2 separate regions of the Homo sapiens genome follow, and region 2 is linked to region 1. Evidence: fine-mapped expression QTL. Tissue or cell type: whole blood. Region 1 holds a variant in brackets; the other region holds the start of a gene. All regions are shown on one strand. Distances are between the middles of the regions.

What was found. PIP is the estimated chance that this variant, and not a neighbour inherited with it, causes the effect.
Region 2: it holds the start of PLA2G6, and the variant in region 1 is fine-mapped to the expression of PLA2G6 in whole blood (INTERVAL, PIP 0.91).

Annotation. Positions count from the first base shown.
Region 1 is chr22:38,128,763-38,136,862 of GRCh38, forward strand. It overlaps PLA2G6 (phospholipase A2 group VI), which reads right to left. Exons shown (of 17, transcript NM_003560.4): 6 at 6,226-6,322; 7 at 4,069-4,251; 8 at 692-800. Among named protein-coding and RNA genes, the nearest start is that of BAIAP2L2, 22 kb to the left of the region's middle. The variant T/G (reference allele first, on the strand shown) is at 4,731.
Region 2 is chr22:38,177,500-38,185,582 of GRCh38, forward strand. PLA2G6 (phospholipase A2 group VI) reads right to left here and starts at 4,331. Exons shown (of 17, transcript NM_003560.4): 1 at 4,165-4,331. RefSeq lists enhancers at 2,734-2,903, 3,184-3,253, 3,884-4,333, 4,283-4,577, 4,494-4,603 and 1 more and a cis regulatory region at 7,411.

The DNA of each region.
Region 1 (8,100 bases):
AAGTGATAGTTCAGGGTTCCAAAGGGACTAATGAGCCAGCCAGGGGGCACCTACTCCATTTGATGGATGGGATTGCTGAAAAGGAGGTCATAGATGCGGTGCATGCAGACACACACGTGTGCACTGGCACACACACACTGCTGCCATCAGGTACCTGCCCACAGTGACCCCCACAGCTGCTGAAACCCTCCAGAGCGGGCTCCAGGCCTCTGGTGAGGAGGATCTGCTCTGTCCAGCTCTGAAGCTAAGGCTCACTGTGCGAGCGTGCAGCACATGGCCATGCACTCTGCCCACACAGGCATGCCCAGAGCTCGTGCAGTGTAGTGCATGCACCCTTGGTCATTCTAGCCAGTGGTTCCATCAGTGAATTCCCCAACGGTGGGGAAAGAAGGCTGCTGCTGGCTCTCCTGTCCCCACCCCTGCTGGGAATCTTAGCTCCCTGAGGTGGGGGGCGCTGCACGGGAGAGGATGCTGGTATAGCAAGCCCCGTGGTGGGCCTGCATCTACTGCTCAGGGCCCTTGTGCTTGGGTAAGGAAGCCCCCTCTCTGAGTACGAGGTGCTCCTGGCAGCTCTGAGCAGGGCGGGTCAGCACAGGATGCTGGCACCTGATGCCTGGGACTTCCCTCCTCCTCGGTCCCTGTATCCACCCAACCCTCACCCCACTCCAGCCCCAGAGTGCAGAGCACATACGTCTGCCGATTTTGGAGGCTAGGAATGTAGGAGTCTCCCCAAAGTCATTCGGGGTGTCCACTTCTGCTCCGAACACGATGAGGGCCTTGATCATCTCCACGTTGTCTTTCTGTTGGAGATGGAGAGAGGATAAGACGTGCAACTGCCGGGGAAGTGAAGAACAAAGGGGCCCCTGGCTGCCAGCCCCAACCTGTCAACTCACCCAGCGGGCCTCTCCTCAGCACGGGGAGACACTGGAACCCTCCTCACCCCCACCCAAGTCAATCTGGTAGTCCAAAGTCTGCCATTTGATGGCTGGGGACCTGACAAACAGGCTTAAAAGCACCCACAGGGGAGGGTGTAAGAACCCAGGCAGAAACTAGAAGTGACTCGCCCCTGCTCTGCCAGCTCCGCCTCCAAAGATGCAGTGCATCTGTGACCCCGACCCAGGAGCCATGGGGACACAGTAGGTCAGCTGCTGATGGCTTTCAGGAGTAGCAAGGAGAGGGTGGGTGAGGGCAGGGAAGGCCATCTTGCCCACCCAGTCCAGGGTGTCATCCCTGAGGGGTAACCGAACACACGTGCCCCTAATGGCAGCCTTCGGGGGAGTGTCCCCACGAAGAACGTCACACATTTCCACACCTGGAGGCCGGGCAGGGGCGCAGAGCATGGCATGGTTTCAGAGGACACACTGGCCACCTGGAACTGTGGGCTCTGGCCTTGTCACCTTCCTCTTCTTGGGACCCGATTTCCCTGCCTAGAGAATGAAGCTGTGGGTCTAGAATGGGGTTTTCCAAACAGTTCTTCACATTCTATTAGGACTTCTATGGCTACAGATATGTGTGTGTTTTCAGCATTAACTGTGATTTTTTGTTGTTGTTACTGTTTTGTTTTGTTTTTTTTGAGACGGAGTCTCACTCTGTCACCCAGGCTGGAGTGCAGTGGCGTGATCTCAGCTCACTGCAACCTCTACCTACCGAGTTCAAGCAATTCTCCTGCCTCAGCCTCCAGAGTAGCTGGTATTACAGGTGCCCACCACTACGCCCAGCTAATTTTTTGTATTTTTAGTAGAGACAGGGTTTCACCATGTTGGCCAGGCTGGTCTTGAACTCCTGACCTCGTGATTCGCCCACCTCGGCCTCCCAAAATGCTGGGATTACAGGCGTGAGCCACCGCGCCCTGCATTGGTTACCTTTTATGGTTGGCACTGGATGGATGGATGGCCATTTATGGTAGTGATGCAACATTTCTCTCAAAATAAATTTAAGTCAGTTTAAAAGTAAGCCAGGCCGGGCACGGTGGCTCACGCTTGTAATCCCAGCAGTTTGGGAGGCTGAGGCAGGTGGAACACCTGAGGTCAGGAGTTCAAGACCAGCCTGACCAACATGGAGAAACCCCGTCTCTACTAAAAATACAAAATTAGCCAGGTGTGGTGGCGCATGAACGTAATCCCAGCTACTCGGGAAGCTGAGGCAGGAGAATCGCTTGAACCCAGGAGGCAGAGGTTGCGGTGAGCCAAGATCGTGCCATTGCACTCCAGCCTGGGCAACAAAAGCGAAACTCTGTCTCAAAATAAATAAATAAAAGTAAGCCAATTTGAAGAGGTGATTAAGTACATAATTGTAAAGGTGGTTGATGAATATGCCAAAAACTGTGAAGATGGGATGAAGATGACCAAAGTCTATCAGCAGTTCTTAAAGTAAGACCTGGGGACCCCTGTGAACACGTGATACCCTTTCAGAGGTCTCACACCCAGCTAATTTTGCATTTTTAGTAGAGATGGGCTTTCGCCATGTTGGCCAGGCTGGTCTCGAACTCCTGGCCTCAGGTGATCTGACCATCTTGGCCTCCCAAAGTGCTGGTGTACACGAGCCACTGCAGCTGGCCAGTTATTTTTTAAGTTTTTTAAAAAATTTTTAATTTTAATTTTTGTGGGTACATAGTAGGCATATATATTTATTATTGTTATTTTTAAATGAATTAATATTTTGAAATTTTCACACTTTAAATTTCTAAAATGGTAAATATAGATAAAGAAAATCCAGATGATTAAAAAATCTTTGTGATCCTCAATAATTTTTCAGAGTATAAAGGGATCAAATAGGCCAAAAAACTTGAGAACTGCTGAGTTAGATCATTCCAAGGGCCCACCCAGTGCTAAAAATGTCCACAGTTTCAAAAATGAAACTATTTATAGTTTCAGCCTTTTGGGCAACAACATCTCTTCCAAGTTTTGACCTTTGGTATAAAACAGGATGTCTCTGAATGTGTCCTGAATCAGCTTTTAGAGTCCCGGGGGTCTCTCATGTTCTGTCACTGAGACTCAGTAAACAGACTTCTGTACATACGGTATTGCTATAGAAAACGTGCACACGGTGGGGCGCGGTGGCTCACGCCTGTAATCCCAGCACTTTGGGGTGCCAAGGCGGGTGGATCATGAGGTCAGGAGTTTGAGACCAGCCTGGCCAACACAGGAGTTCGAGACCAGCCTGGCCAACGTGGTGAAACCCCGTCTCTACTAAAAATACAAAAATTAGCTGGGCATGGTGGCACGTGCCTGCAGTCCCAGCTACTTGGGAGGCTGAGGCAGGAGAATCGCTTGAACCTGGGAGGCGGAGGTTGTGGTGAGCCGAGATCGCGCCACTGCACTCCAGCCTGGGCGACAGTGCGAGACTCCATCTCGAAAAAAAAGAATACATGCACACACATATGTCTGTAACACAGTAACGTCCTCCTCTGCTAGGTTTAATATGTTCATACTCTAGATGTGTAACCAGACAGTAAGGGCTTTGAGGGCAGGAACTGTGTTCTATAATAAACCAACGAATATGCCTGGCACCTGCCACAGGCTGCTGGGCTGCACACTCAGGCTTTGCCTGCCAGGATCTTACAGCCTCCCAGGGAAGATGAGAGCAACACGCGGACCAGTGAAGGGAAGCAGGATGCTCACTCGGGCCAGGTACTGCGTGTGTCACTTAGACATTCTGTAGAGGGTGACCAAGTGTCCACCATAACTTTTCCACAACTCTTCCAGATAAGTATTGACACCACCATTTTCCAGATGAGGAAATCGAGGCTGACAGGTGACATGGCTTGCTCAGGGCCAGTCTATGGCCAGAGCTGTCATTTTTCCCTCTCGTGCCATGCAAGTGCCAAATGGGGGCACAGGTGGAAAAGGTACCACAGCACACAGGAGGTGGTGTTATTTTGGGCTGAGAGGGGGACTTGGAAGGCTTCCTGAGGGAGGAGTCAGGGTCTGAACTGAGCTTTGGGTGGGAAGATGATTTGGAGCAGCTGACGATAGGAGGGAGACAGTGGGGAGGAGGGCTCCAGTCCGGACAGCCCTCCTGCATTCCCACCGGGGCCCCACAGGGCAGGACACGCGGTCCTGGGCTCACCGACATGGCCAGGTGCAGCGGGGTGTTGCCGTGCTCTCCGCGGGCATCCGCGTTGGCCCCGTGGGTCAGCAGCACTATGGCACAGTCGAAGCGGTTGCGCATCACCGCCACGTGCAGGGCCGTGTTCCCCGCGGAGCTGGTGCTGTTCACGTTGCAGCCCCGTTTCAGCAGCATGCGGGCCATCTGCGGGAGACGGTCAGGCTGAGTTAGCACAGGCACTCGGGGAGCTGCCGCACCCCGGGACACGTGGGCACTGCCACTTCTGCTCTGAGAGGCCTACAGGTACTGGGATGTTGGAAAGCGCTAGCAAGAGGATTCCAGGGGCAGGCCCCAGTTCTAGGGGGGCCTAGACTGCCTCCCATCCCATCAGCATCCCAAGACTAGGGACAAAAAGCCAAAGATGTGCTGACTGTTTTAAGAGGCTTCTGGTCCTTTCCTAGTGCCAACAGAACCCACTCTCCTTGCAAAGGCTCCTCTGGGGCCTGTCCTGAAGCACCCCGCTCCCTGCATCCCTCCCTGGAACCCTGCAAAGGTATCACCTCTCACTGGGCCTTGGCAATGCACATCCCTGGCAGAGCCTTGGGAACAGGGAGGGGAGCCTGGCTTTGGAGTCACAGACCTGAGCCCAAAGCCCAGCTTCACTCATCCCAGCTGCCTGCGCT[T/G]GGATGGGTCACTGTAGCCATGTGCACTTCAGGGCTTCTGTGAAGATGGGAATGCAAGTCCCCACCTCACAGCATGTGATGACAATGAGTGACCAAACCTACACGGAAGGGCCTGACTCGGTGTCCGGCTCCTGGAATGCAGAGGTACCCTGAGGCTGGCAGTGCCCTCCCTCCTGGCCCATCACATTGAGAAGTAGGCCATGAACTCTGGGGCATCCCATTCTCTGTCAAGCTGTGCTTCCTGGTGATGAGACCAGAGGCCTCCATCCTCCCAGGAGGACAGAGCTTAGCTTAGGGGAAGAACTCAGAGGAGATGCCCAGCCAGGCTCCCTGTGTGTGCAGCTAGGCCCAGCACCACCACCACCACCATCATCATCCATCATCATCATCATCATCTTGATGGTTAATAATGAGTGTCAACTTGATTGGATTGAAGGATGTAAAGTATTGACCCTGGGTGTGTCTGAGAGGGTGCTGCTAACGGAGATTAACATTTGAGTCAGTAGGGGAAGGCAGACCTACCCTTAATCTGGGTGGGCACCATCTAATCAGCTGCCAGCACGGCCAGAATATAAAGCAGGCAGAAAAAAATGTGAAAAGGCTAGACTGGCTTAGCCTCCCAGCCTACATCTTTCTCCCGTGCTGGATGCTTCCTGCCCTCAAACATCAGACTCCAAGTCCTTCAGCTCTGGGACTTGGACTGGCTTCCTTGCTCCTCAGCTTGCGATGGCCTATTGTGGGACCTTGTGATCGTGTGAGTTAATGCTCCTTAATAAATCCCCCTTTAGGCCAGGCACGGTGGCTCACGCCTATAATCCCAGCACTTTGGGAGGCCAAGGCAGGCAGATCACGAGGTCAGGAGATCGAGACCATCCTGGCTAACACGGTGAAACCTCGTCTCTACTAAAAATACAAAAAAATTAGCCGGGTGTGGTGGCGGGCGCCTGTAGTCCCAGCTACTCAGGAGGCTGAGGCAGGAGAATGGCATGAACCTGGGAGGCAGAGCTTGCAGTGAGCCAAGATTGTGCCACTGCACTCCAGCCTGGGCGACAGAGCGAGACTCCGTCTCAAAAAAAATAAAATAAAAAAATAAACCCCCCTCTCTCTCTATATATATATCTCCTGTTAGTTCTGGCCCTCTAGAGAATCCTGACTAATAATACAATCATCATCACGCCACCTTCTATTTGGGAAGCACTTTACAATTTGTGCCGAGTTTTGTCACACACTGCCTTGCTGACTTCATCACATCGCCAAAGCAGAATTCATGGATGAGGAAACTGAGGCACAGGGCGGATCCCCCCGCCCAGCCAGAGAGCAGCAGAGCCCTGCCAGGATCCCAGCTCTTCATGGACTTCTCTGCCTGCACACCCACTGCAAGGTCAGCCCCCAAGTGCTAGCCTCAGGGTCCTCTCGGGAACCTGCTTCCTGAGGGCCCTGAGGACCTGCGGGGCCCGGCCCCCTGCCCCACCCACCCACCTCAGGATCCACTCACCTCTGCGTTCTTGGCCCAGTGGAGGGGGCTGGCTCCGTAACGGGGGTCTTTGCTGTGGATCTGGCTGCTGTCCATGCTGATGATCATCTCCGCACACCTGGTGAGAGAGGGGCCCCGGTTGGTGAGCAGAAGCTAGGGTCTGCGTGGCGTGGGATGAAGCCAGGACTTGGAGCTTCATCTACTGCTTACAGAGAGCATCACTGCAAACAAAGTTCAGCAAACCCAACCAGCACACTCACCATGGTTAAGGCTGTACTGAGCCCCTCAAGGCACAACTAACCCCCTCCTCCAGGAAGCCTTCCTGATGCTGCCACCAGCAATGATCACCCTCCCTGGTACTGGCTTTAGAGTCAGATGGGCTTGAAGTCAAGCCCCAGCTTCCTCACTGGTGGCCTCCAGAAGCTGAGCAACATGGAGAGAGTGCTGAGAGGAGTGGCTGGGGTGTAAGGAAGACCAGGCATTTCAGAGCCCAGTTCTGTGCCTGGCACACAGCCACCCTCCACCTCCTTACCACACTGTCAGTGAGTCACACAGTGACCTGCATGCTATAGGAAGCAGTATGACAGAGTGGGAAAGAGCACAATTGCTTTCTACTCGGTGCCTGAGGCAAGCAGTGTCCACCAGAGATCTTAGCATCTCCAGCCTCAGAGCAGAGGCCCCGGGTTCACAAGCCTCATTAGGCCCCGCCTGGCCCAAAGAAAGTGCTCCATCATTGTATCATGGGTAGGAATCTCGGTTCACAAGTTCAGCTGTGCAAGGAGAAGACTTTAAAATTTTTCTGGCTGGGCGCGGTGTCTCACGCCTGTAATCCCAACACTTTGGGAGGCTGAGGCAGGCGGATCACCTGAGGTCGGAAGTATCAAAGGACGGAATGCAGGGACTTGAATGGACATTTGCAGACCCATGTACACAGCAGCATTCTTCACAACAGACAAAAGGTGGAAACAACCCAGGCGTCTATCAGTGAAGGACTGAATGGATAAACAAAATAGTATTCTGCCTTAAAAAGAAAGGAAATTCTGATACGTGCTGCAACATGGATGAGCCTTGAAGACATCATGCTAAGTGAAATAAGCCAGGCACAAAAGGACAAACGCTGTATGATTTCACTGATACGAGGTTCTAGAACAGGCAAGTTCTGAGAGACAGAGAGGATATGGGACTTATCGGGGGCTGTGGGGAGGGGAGAATCGGGAGTTATTAATGGTTACAGTTTCTGTTTGAGGTGATAAGAAAAGTTTTAGAAAGGGGTAATGGTTGGACAACATTGTAAATGTGATTAAAACCACCGAATTGTACACTTAAAAGTGGTTAAAATGGGCCGGGTGTGGTGGCTCACGCCTGTAATCCCAGCACTTTGGGAGGCCAAGGTGGGTGGATCACCTGAGGTCGGGAGTTCGAGACCAGCCTGACCAACATGGAGAAACCCTGTCTCTACTAAAAAATACAAAATTAACTGGGCATGGTGGTGCATGCCTGTAATCCCAGCTACTACTCGGGAGGCTGAGGCAGGAGAATCACTTGAACCCGGGAGGTGGAGGTAACGGTAAGCCGAGATCACACCATTGCACTCCAGCCTGAGCAACGAGAGCGAAACTCTGTCTCAAAAACAAAAAACAAAAGTGGTTAAAATGGCAAATTTTATGTTATATATAATCTATCACAGTTGGAAAAAATAAACATAATATATCAGAATCATTGTATACTTTCAATAGGTGGATTGTATGGAATAGGAACTATATCTCAATAAAGCTTTTTTTTTTTTTTTTTTTTAGTGCAATTACTAGGACAGCCCACATGGGTTTAATTCCCAGGTCTGGCACTTACTGACTGCCTGACTTTGAGCAAATTACTTAATCTCTCTAAGCCCTGGTT
Region 2 (8,083 bases), 49 kb after region 1:
TTGCCCAAGCTGGAGTGCAATGGCGTGATCTTGGCTCACTGCAACCTCTGCCTCCCGGGTTCAAGCGATTCTCCTGCCTCAGTCTCCAGACTAGCTGGGATTACAGGCGCGCACCACCACACTCGGCTAATTTTTTGTATTTTTAGTAGAAACGGGGTTTCACCATGTTAACCAGGCTGGTCTTGAACTCCTGACCTCCGGTGATCCGCCCACCTCCACCTCCCAAAGTGCTGGGGTTACAGGCATGAGCCACTGCGCCCGGCCGAATTGCCACATTTAACCCTCCAAACACCTGTAAGAAAAGGTCCAGGTCTCTCCACATTACACAGGAAACTGGGGCACAGGTTACACAGTTTGCCAGGATCTGAACCCAATTAGGTGGAATCCAGAGCATCAGGCTCTTAATCCTCAAACTGCCTTCAGGAGAAAGCTGAAAGAAGGTGGCTGAGCGAGGCTTGCTCAACAGGCTCTTAGATTCCAAAAGCCAAGGCCCTCGTCTCAAAATGCACTGCTGCTCACGTGAGCCAGAGCAAAACGTCCTTTCACAAAAGGAAAAAGCATCTCTTTCATTCACTCCGCTTGGCTGGACCACAGCTGGAAGCAAACTGCCCCGAAACTGTCACTGGAGCTCCCAAGCACATGAGACAGGGGTGACTTTAAGAGATCTTTGGGCTGGTGGCACGGTACAGTGTGGCCCATGTTATGACTCACTCCACAAATATTTACTGAGATGGATTGTGGCAGGCATTGTTCTAACCGCTGAGGATACAATCGTAAACAAAACAGACTGGTCAGGCACGGCAGTTCACTCCTGTAATCCCAGCACTTTAGGAGGCCAAGGAAGGAGGATCACTTAAGCTCAGGACTTTGAGACCAGCCTGGGTAATATAGTGAGACCTCACCTCTACAAAAACTTAACAATTACCCAGGCATGGTATCTCTCATGCCTGTAAGTCCCAGCTACTAAGGTGGCTGAGGTGGGGGGATTGCTTAAGTCTAGCAGGTCGAGGCTGCAGTGAGCTGTGATTGTGCCACTGCAATCCAGCCTGAGCGACAGTGAGACCCTGTCTTAAAACAAAACAAGGCCGGGCGCGGTGGCTCACACCAGTAATCCCAGAACTTTGGGAGGCCGAGGCGGGTGGATCACTTGAGGTCAAGAGTTCAAGACCGGCCTGGCCAACATAGTGAAACCCCATCTCTACCAAAAAATACAAAAATTAGCTGGGTGTGGTGGCGTGCACCTGTAATTCCAGCTTCCTGGGAGACTGAGGTGGGAGAATCACTCAAACCCAGGAGGCGGAGGCTGCAGTGAGCTGAGATCGCACCACTGCGCTCCAGCCTGGGCAACAGAGTGAGACCCTGTCTCAAAACCAAAACAACCAACCAACCAAAAAAAACCCCACAAAATCCCTGACATCCTGGAACTTATATTTTAGACAGAGCTACTAATAATAAAGAAGATAAACAGGTAAATATTTACAAAGGTTTTAGATGACAATTAACTACTGAGGAGAAAAACCAGAGAATGGGGATAGGAAGTGCTGAGGTGGAGAGTGAAATTTTAGATTGGGTGAGGAGAGAAGTCTTCACCAAGAAATTGATCTTAAATAAATACCTGATGGAGAGAGATGAAAGTCATATGAATAGCTAGGCAAAGAGAGCGTGTGCAAAGGCCATGGGGCTGGAACATGTTTAGCGAGTTCCAGGAAAAGCAAGGAAGCCAGTGACATCAGAGAGGCAACAGGGGGCCAGGCATGTGCCATGAGAGGAGAGGCCACTGCAAAGAAACAACATTTTAACAAGATCACTCTGGCTGGGTGTGGGGTAAGAAACAGAGAGGCATCATAGATAATCTCACAGCTTTGACCTGAGCAACTGAATGAACAATACTCCTATGTCCTAAGATGAGAAAGAGAGTGGGAGGGACATGTTTTGGTGAAGAGTGGGGTCAGGGATGGAGGGCAGAACTAACAGGAGCTCAATTCTAAACTCTTAAGTTTGAGGCCTGGCGCGGTGGCTCACACCTGTAATCCCACCACTTTGGGAGGCCAAGGCAGGTGGATCACTTGAGATCAGGAGTTCGAGACCAGCCTGGCCAACACGGTGAAACCCCGCCTCTACAAAAATACAAAAATTAGTTGGGCATGATGGCGCATGCTTGTAATCCCAGCTACTTGGGAGGCTGAGGCAGGAGAATCAGGAGGTGGAGGTTGCAGTGAGCCGAGATCGTGCCATTGCATTCCAGCCTGGGTGACAGAGTGAGACTCTGTCTCAAAAAATAAATAAATCAATAAATAAATACTTCAAGTTTGAAAAGCCTAAGTTTGAGGTGCTGAGTAAGCAACTAGATTTGAGTATGTCATTCCAGGGAAAGGTCTGGACTGGACTGGGGATATAAATTTGTGGGCTGACAGAATAGAGACGGCACTTAAAGAAATAAGACTGGATGAGATCACCATCCGAAAACGAGAAGAGGCATTTAAGACATGACCCTATCAAAATCCACTGTGAAAGACACAGAACATATTCTCCCAGGGAGCCACCCTCTACAAAGTGAAGTTTGTAACACACTCTTCACTACGGCCCCTTACTCCTTGCCTACCTACTTCCCCCAGCACACACACCCAATAGATGTCTGCAGACACACACACACACACACACACACACACACACACACACACACAGAGTATTTAAATTTCTCCTTTCTGTATCTCTTAGTGATGTCATTCTGCTGAGTAAGAGGGAAACTCCCTTTTGGGGAGTCTCTCATGTAACAAGAAAGTAATCCACGGAAGGAACAAGAAGTGTCCTAAACAGTAGCAAACCTTACACATCAGGACAATCACACAGGCTCTGGTGTCAGATTCCAGCTTCAACCTCATCGGTGTGACCTCAAGCAACTCATGCGCCCTCTTTTTCTCATGTGAAGTGAGAATATCATTGGCCACACCAAGGGTAGCCTAGAACATCAGACAGTCCGTAAATATTTGTTAGATAAACGATGACTGAATGAATGGTGAAGAGAACATATACAGAAGAGCCTGACTCACAAGAGGTGATGAACAAACACTGCCAAATGATACACTGAAAGACAAGGGACCTCCTGCTCATCCTTCTCTCCTTGTCTTCTCATTCTAGCCCTTTCCCTTTCCACTCCTTTCAATTCTGCCTATGACCCAACAGTAAAATCATGTATTTGTACAGGGCCATACTGGTTATAAAGCTTTACCTTCTACATTTTCTCATTCAAATTTTGAACCTCATGGCAGACTTACGAGGGCAGGAGGTACAGTTCCCCTGTCACAGATGAGGAAACTGAGACTTGGACAGAAAACAGGTTCCAAACTCCAGGCAGAAACTCTAACAAAAACAATGCATTCAAAAACAATGCATTCAGCCCAAGGGTGCAGCCTCAACGTTGCCAAACCGAACCTGCCTGACATCCTGTTGGGCGGGTAAGAGGCAGGTGAGGGAAAGACCCAGAAGCTAGGGGGAGGTATTCGTTGGGGTCATGTGGGTAGCCCATTAAAAATACGGCCACAGGTCCCCTTGCCCTGTGCCCTCCCTGTCCCACACCCACAGGCTTGCCCCGACCCAGTCCCATGATCACCCTGGTCACATGCTCCCTGTCACCAGCTTCCAAGTCATCTGTGGGAGCAGGAGGTGGACACAGGATTAGGGGTGGGAGACTCTGGGGTGGCCAGGCTGAGGGGAAGGAGGGAGCATGTCGGGGGCAGGTCTGGAGGCACGCGAGAGAGGAAAGGCAAGGAAAAAAAGCAGGGAGGAAAGGCAGGAGAAGCAGGGAGTGAGAAATGAGTAGAGGCACCACGAAAGGTGGAGACGGACGTGAAGTGGGGAATCAAGTGAGCACTTAGAGGAGCACAGGAAGGAAAATTAGGACGGCCAATGGGGCCTAAAGAGGCACTGAGGGTCGGGGAAAGAGAAGAGATGGATTGACTCGGGAAGTTAGGGATACTGAGGGAGACACACGGAGGAGACTGGGGTTCAGGGGAGAAACTCAGGGTCGAAGCTGGGGTCCCTGGGGTCCACAAGTTCGAGATGAGACACGGGCGGTCTCGGGATGGGAATTGGGGACGCAGGGGGATGAAAAGATGGAAGGTGGGGGCACTCAGGGAGTCACATAAGGGTTAATGGAGGACATGCCTCAGAATCGGAGACACGAGGAATATCCAAAGGAGGGTCCGGCGGAGACTTGGGAGTCCGGAGCGCCGAGGAAGTTGGGGAACGGACCCCCAGGCCCCGCCCACCCGCGAGGTCACTCACCTCGGCTTACTCAGCACTTCTACTTCCTCCTACTTCCGCAAACAAACGGGCCTCGGGCCACGTGATGGCCTGACCACCGCTCTCCGCCAATCACTGGTGGCCCTGTCCCAGGCCTCCTCTAGGCTCCGCCCCCGCGCCCGAGGACGGCGGGAGGCGGGGTCCGCCATTTTTTTTAACTGCCCAATGGAAGGGGCTCCCTTAGCCAGGAGGACGAGCTTTCGGCGGGAGCCAATCCTCGGCGGCGAGGCGCGGCCATGTTTGTGCGGGGCAGAAGGTGCCCGGCTTCTTGGCAGTCCTGTTGATGAGGGCCAGGAGTCCTACCCTAGTCCGCCTTCCGCCTCCTAAAGCGACCAGAGCCTGGAGTCTGAAGTTACTGTTAATGATTGCTCGTAAAGATAAAAATAAAGGCAACAGAGGCATAGGGCATAACAAGGAGGAACCTGTTTTGATTTTTGCCAGGTAGCCTCAAGCCAGGGTTGCCAGATGTAGCATATAAAAAATACGGGATGTTAAGTTACATTTGAATTTCAGCTAAACAGCCAATACATTTTTTTCCGATAGAACAGAAATTGATTATAGCTTTTTTATTTTTCACAACTAAGGCCAAATTCCCTAGGGGAATTACCACATGTCCTTTTTTTTTTTTTTTTTGAGACAAGTCTCGCTCTGTCGACCATGCTGGAGTGCAGTGGCACGATCTCGCTCACTGCAACCTCCGCCTCCCGGATTCAAGCGATTCTCCTGCGTCAGCCTCCCGCGTAGCTGAGATTGCAGGCGCCCGCCACTACGCCCAGCTAATTTTTTGTATTTTTAGTAGAGACGGGGTTTCACCATGTTGGCCAGGCTGGTCTCGAACTCCTGACCTCAAGTGATCTGCCCGCCTCAGCCTCCCGAAGTGCTGGGATTACAGGCGTGAGCCACCACGCCCGGCTCCGAAATTTTTAACATAAGTATAATATACTAAGTTTAGTATTGTGTTAAAAATGTGTGCATTGTTGTCTGGCAACACACCCTGAGCCAGTCTCAGGAAATACCTTAGCACTTTCAGTAGGAACTTGGGCAAATGATCTCTGTGAACCTCAGACCCATCATCCAGGAAGTGGGCACAGTAATACAAGATTGTTGTAATATCTAGAAGTAAATTGGTCCCCATTCGTGCACATAGTGGGATTTCAATAAATGGCAGTTGTTAGGGTTAATAATGCCGATAATGAGGTATTTTGCAGAGAAGCCAGGAGACTAGACTTTAGTCACACATCTGCTTCGGACTGAGCAGGTCATGTCCTCTCTTCAGCCCACTGGCTTGGTTGGACCTTTTCTTTCCCTAATAATCACCCAACCCTAGGTCTAGATGAATCTGCCAGACTGCTCTCCATTTACGTGGGAAGTATAGTTGCGGGTGTCATTCTTGTGAAAAGAAGCGTGTAGGCCGGGTGCGGTGGCTCACGCCTATAATCCCAGCAGTTTGGGAGGCTGAGGCGGGTGGATCACTTGAGGTCAGGAGTTTGAGACCAGCCTGACCAACATGGTGAAACCCCATCTCTACTAAAAATACAAATAATTAGCTGGGTGTGCTGGCCATAGTCTGTAGTCCCAGCTGCTCAGGAGGCTGAGGCAGGAGAATTGCTTGAACCCAGGAGGCAGAGGTTGCAGTGAGCCAAGATCATGCCACTGTACTCCAGCCTGGGTGACAGAGCCAGACTCTGTCTCAAAAAAAAAAAAAGTGTGTTTCCTCCTTAGTCCGTCTAAAGATATTAGTGCCTAGACAGGGCAGCCAATGCAACTTGCGCAAGGTTTAGTTAAGAATCTTCACAGGTTAATGAAATTAACCATCTTAACTAATATCTGTACAGAGCTTTACCAGTTACAAAGTGACTTCACTTCCATCATATCCTCGTGTCCCCATTTTACAGGTGAGGAAATTGTTCCTTAAAGTAAGATTTAAAATTTGCTTAAGAGTTTCAGCTTGACTGCGCACAGTGGCTCACGCCTGTAATCCCAACACTTTGGGAGGCCGAGGTGGGCAGATCACTTGAGCTCAGGAGTTCAAGACCAGCTTGTGCAACATGGAGAAACCTCGTCTTTAAAAAAAATACAAAAATTATCCAGGTGTGGTCTTGCATGCCTTTGGTCCCAGCTACTGTGCAGGGGAGGCCGGGGGGTCAAGGATGCAGTGAGCCAAGATCGCCTGCACTCCAGCCTGGGTGACAGAGCGAGACCATGTCTCAAAAAAAAAAAAAAAAAAGTTTCAGCTTGAAGTGGAGAGAAAAGGATAAAGACTCAGAATTCTCAATGAAAATATCTTGCCTCCACACCCCAAACAAGCAAAGTTAGAGCGATGGTTATCAAGGAGCTTGCAAAAGGCCATGCATTCCACGCACTGCCAAGCAATCTTTCCTTCCTGAGAAAACCCACAGGGGCAACATGAGGTGTCCCATTCTTCAACAAACACCCACCCTTGCATTCAGGATTTTGCAAAGCACATTTGGAAATGCAGATACACAGGTGAATCTAAAATGCAGACAAGGGCCAGGTGTGGTGGCTCATGCCTATAATCCCAACACTTTAGGAGGCTGAGGCGGGTGGATTACCTGAGGTCAGGAGTTCGAGACCATTCTGACCAACATGGTGAAACCCCGTCTCTACAAAAAAATACAAAAAAATTAGTCAGGCGTGGTGGCAGGCAACTGTAATCCCAGCTACTGGGGAGGCTGAGGCAGAAAAATCTCTTGAACCCAGGAGGTGGAGGTTGCAGTGAGCTGAGATCACACCAGTGCCCTCCAGCCTAGGCGACAGAGCAAGACCCCATCTCAATAAATAAATAAATAATAAAATGCAGAAAAGGCCAAGAGAGGCTGGATCAATTGCTGGAAACAGTCAAAGATCCACAGAAGACATTCACAAAATAGAATCTCAGTACCTGATGAAGTTAAGTATCCCTTCCCTAGGTATTTCTGGTGGAAACCATTTAATGAGTAGATAAATCAAAAGATGGAATAGAGGGGATTATTAGGTAGCATTGAATGAGCAAGTAAAGGGATGGGGCAAGTAAGCACGAGGGAGTGTGTTCTGTAGTGCTAGCAGATGGAGCTGCTAGCAGTTAAAGTCAAAAGAACTTCTCCTGAGGTGTTGTGCTAGGCTCCTCCCATACATCAGGGAGGGCGTCTGCCCTCTAAGAGCCCAGAGCACAGAGGGTCAGACTAGACTAATCTTTTCCTTCAAGGAGCTAGATGGAAATCTAACTAACATGCTAACAGTGCAATATCACACCTTTTACTTTTTTTTGGAGACAGAGTCTCCCTCTGTCACCCAGGCTGGAGCGCAGTGGCGCGATCTTGGCTCACGGCAACCTCCACCTCCCAGGTTCTAACTGATTCTCCTGCCTCAGCCTCCCGAGTAGCTGGAATTACAGGCGTGCACTACCACGCCTGGCTAATTTTTGTATTTCTAATAGAAACGAGGTTTCACCAAGTTGGCCAGGCTGGTCTCAAACTCCTGACCTCAGGGGATCCACCCGCCTCAGTCTCCCAAAGTGCTGGGATTACAGGTGTGAGCCACCACCCCCAGCCGACTTCTTACTTTTTTATCCTTGCAACAGCCCTGTGATATAGTACTGCCATCCCCACTTTGTAGATGAAGAGAATGAGGTTCCACAAGGGAAAATTATCCCCAGAGTTGCCAATGAGAGGCAGTGCCAGTTGCCAGTGTCAACGAGAGGCAGAACCAGAATCAGCACCTGTCTTGTCTTTTCTCTCTCCAAACTCTAGGAGCACTCATTATGTGCCAGGCAGTGTTCTTG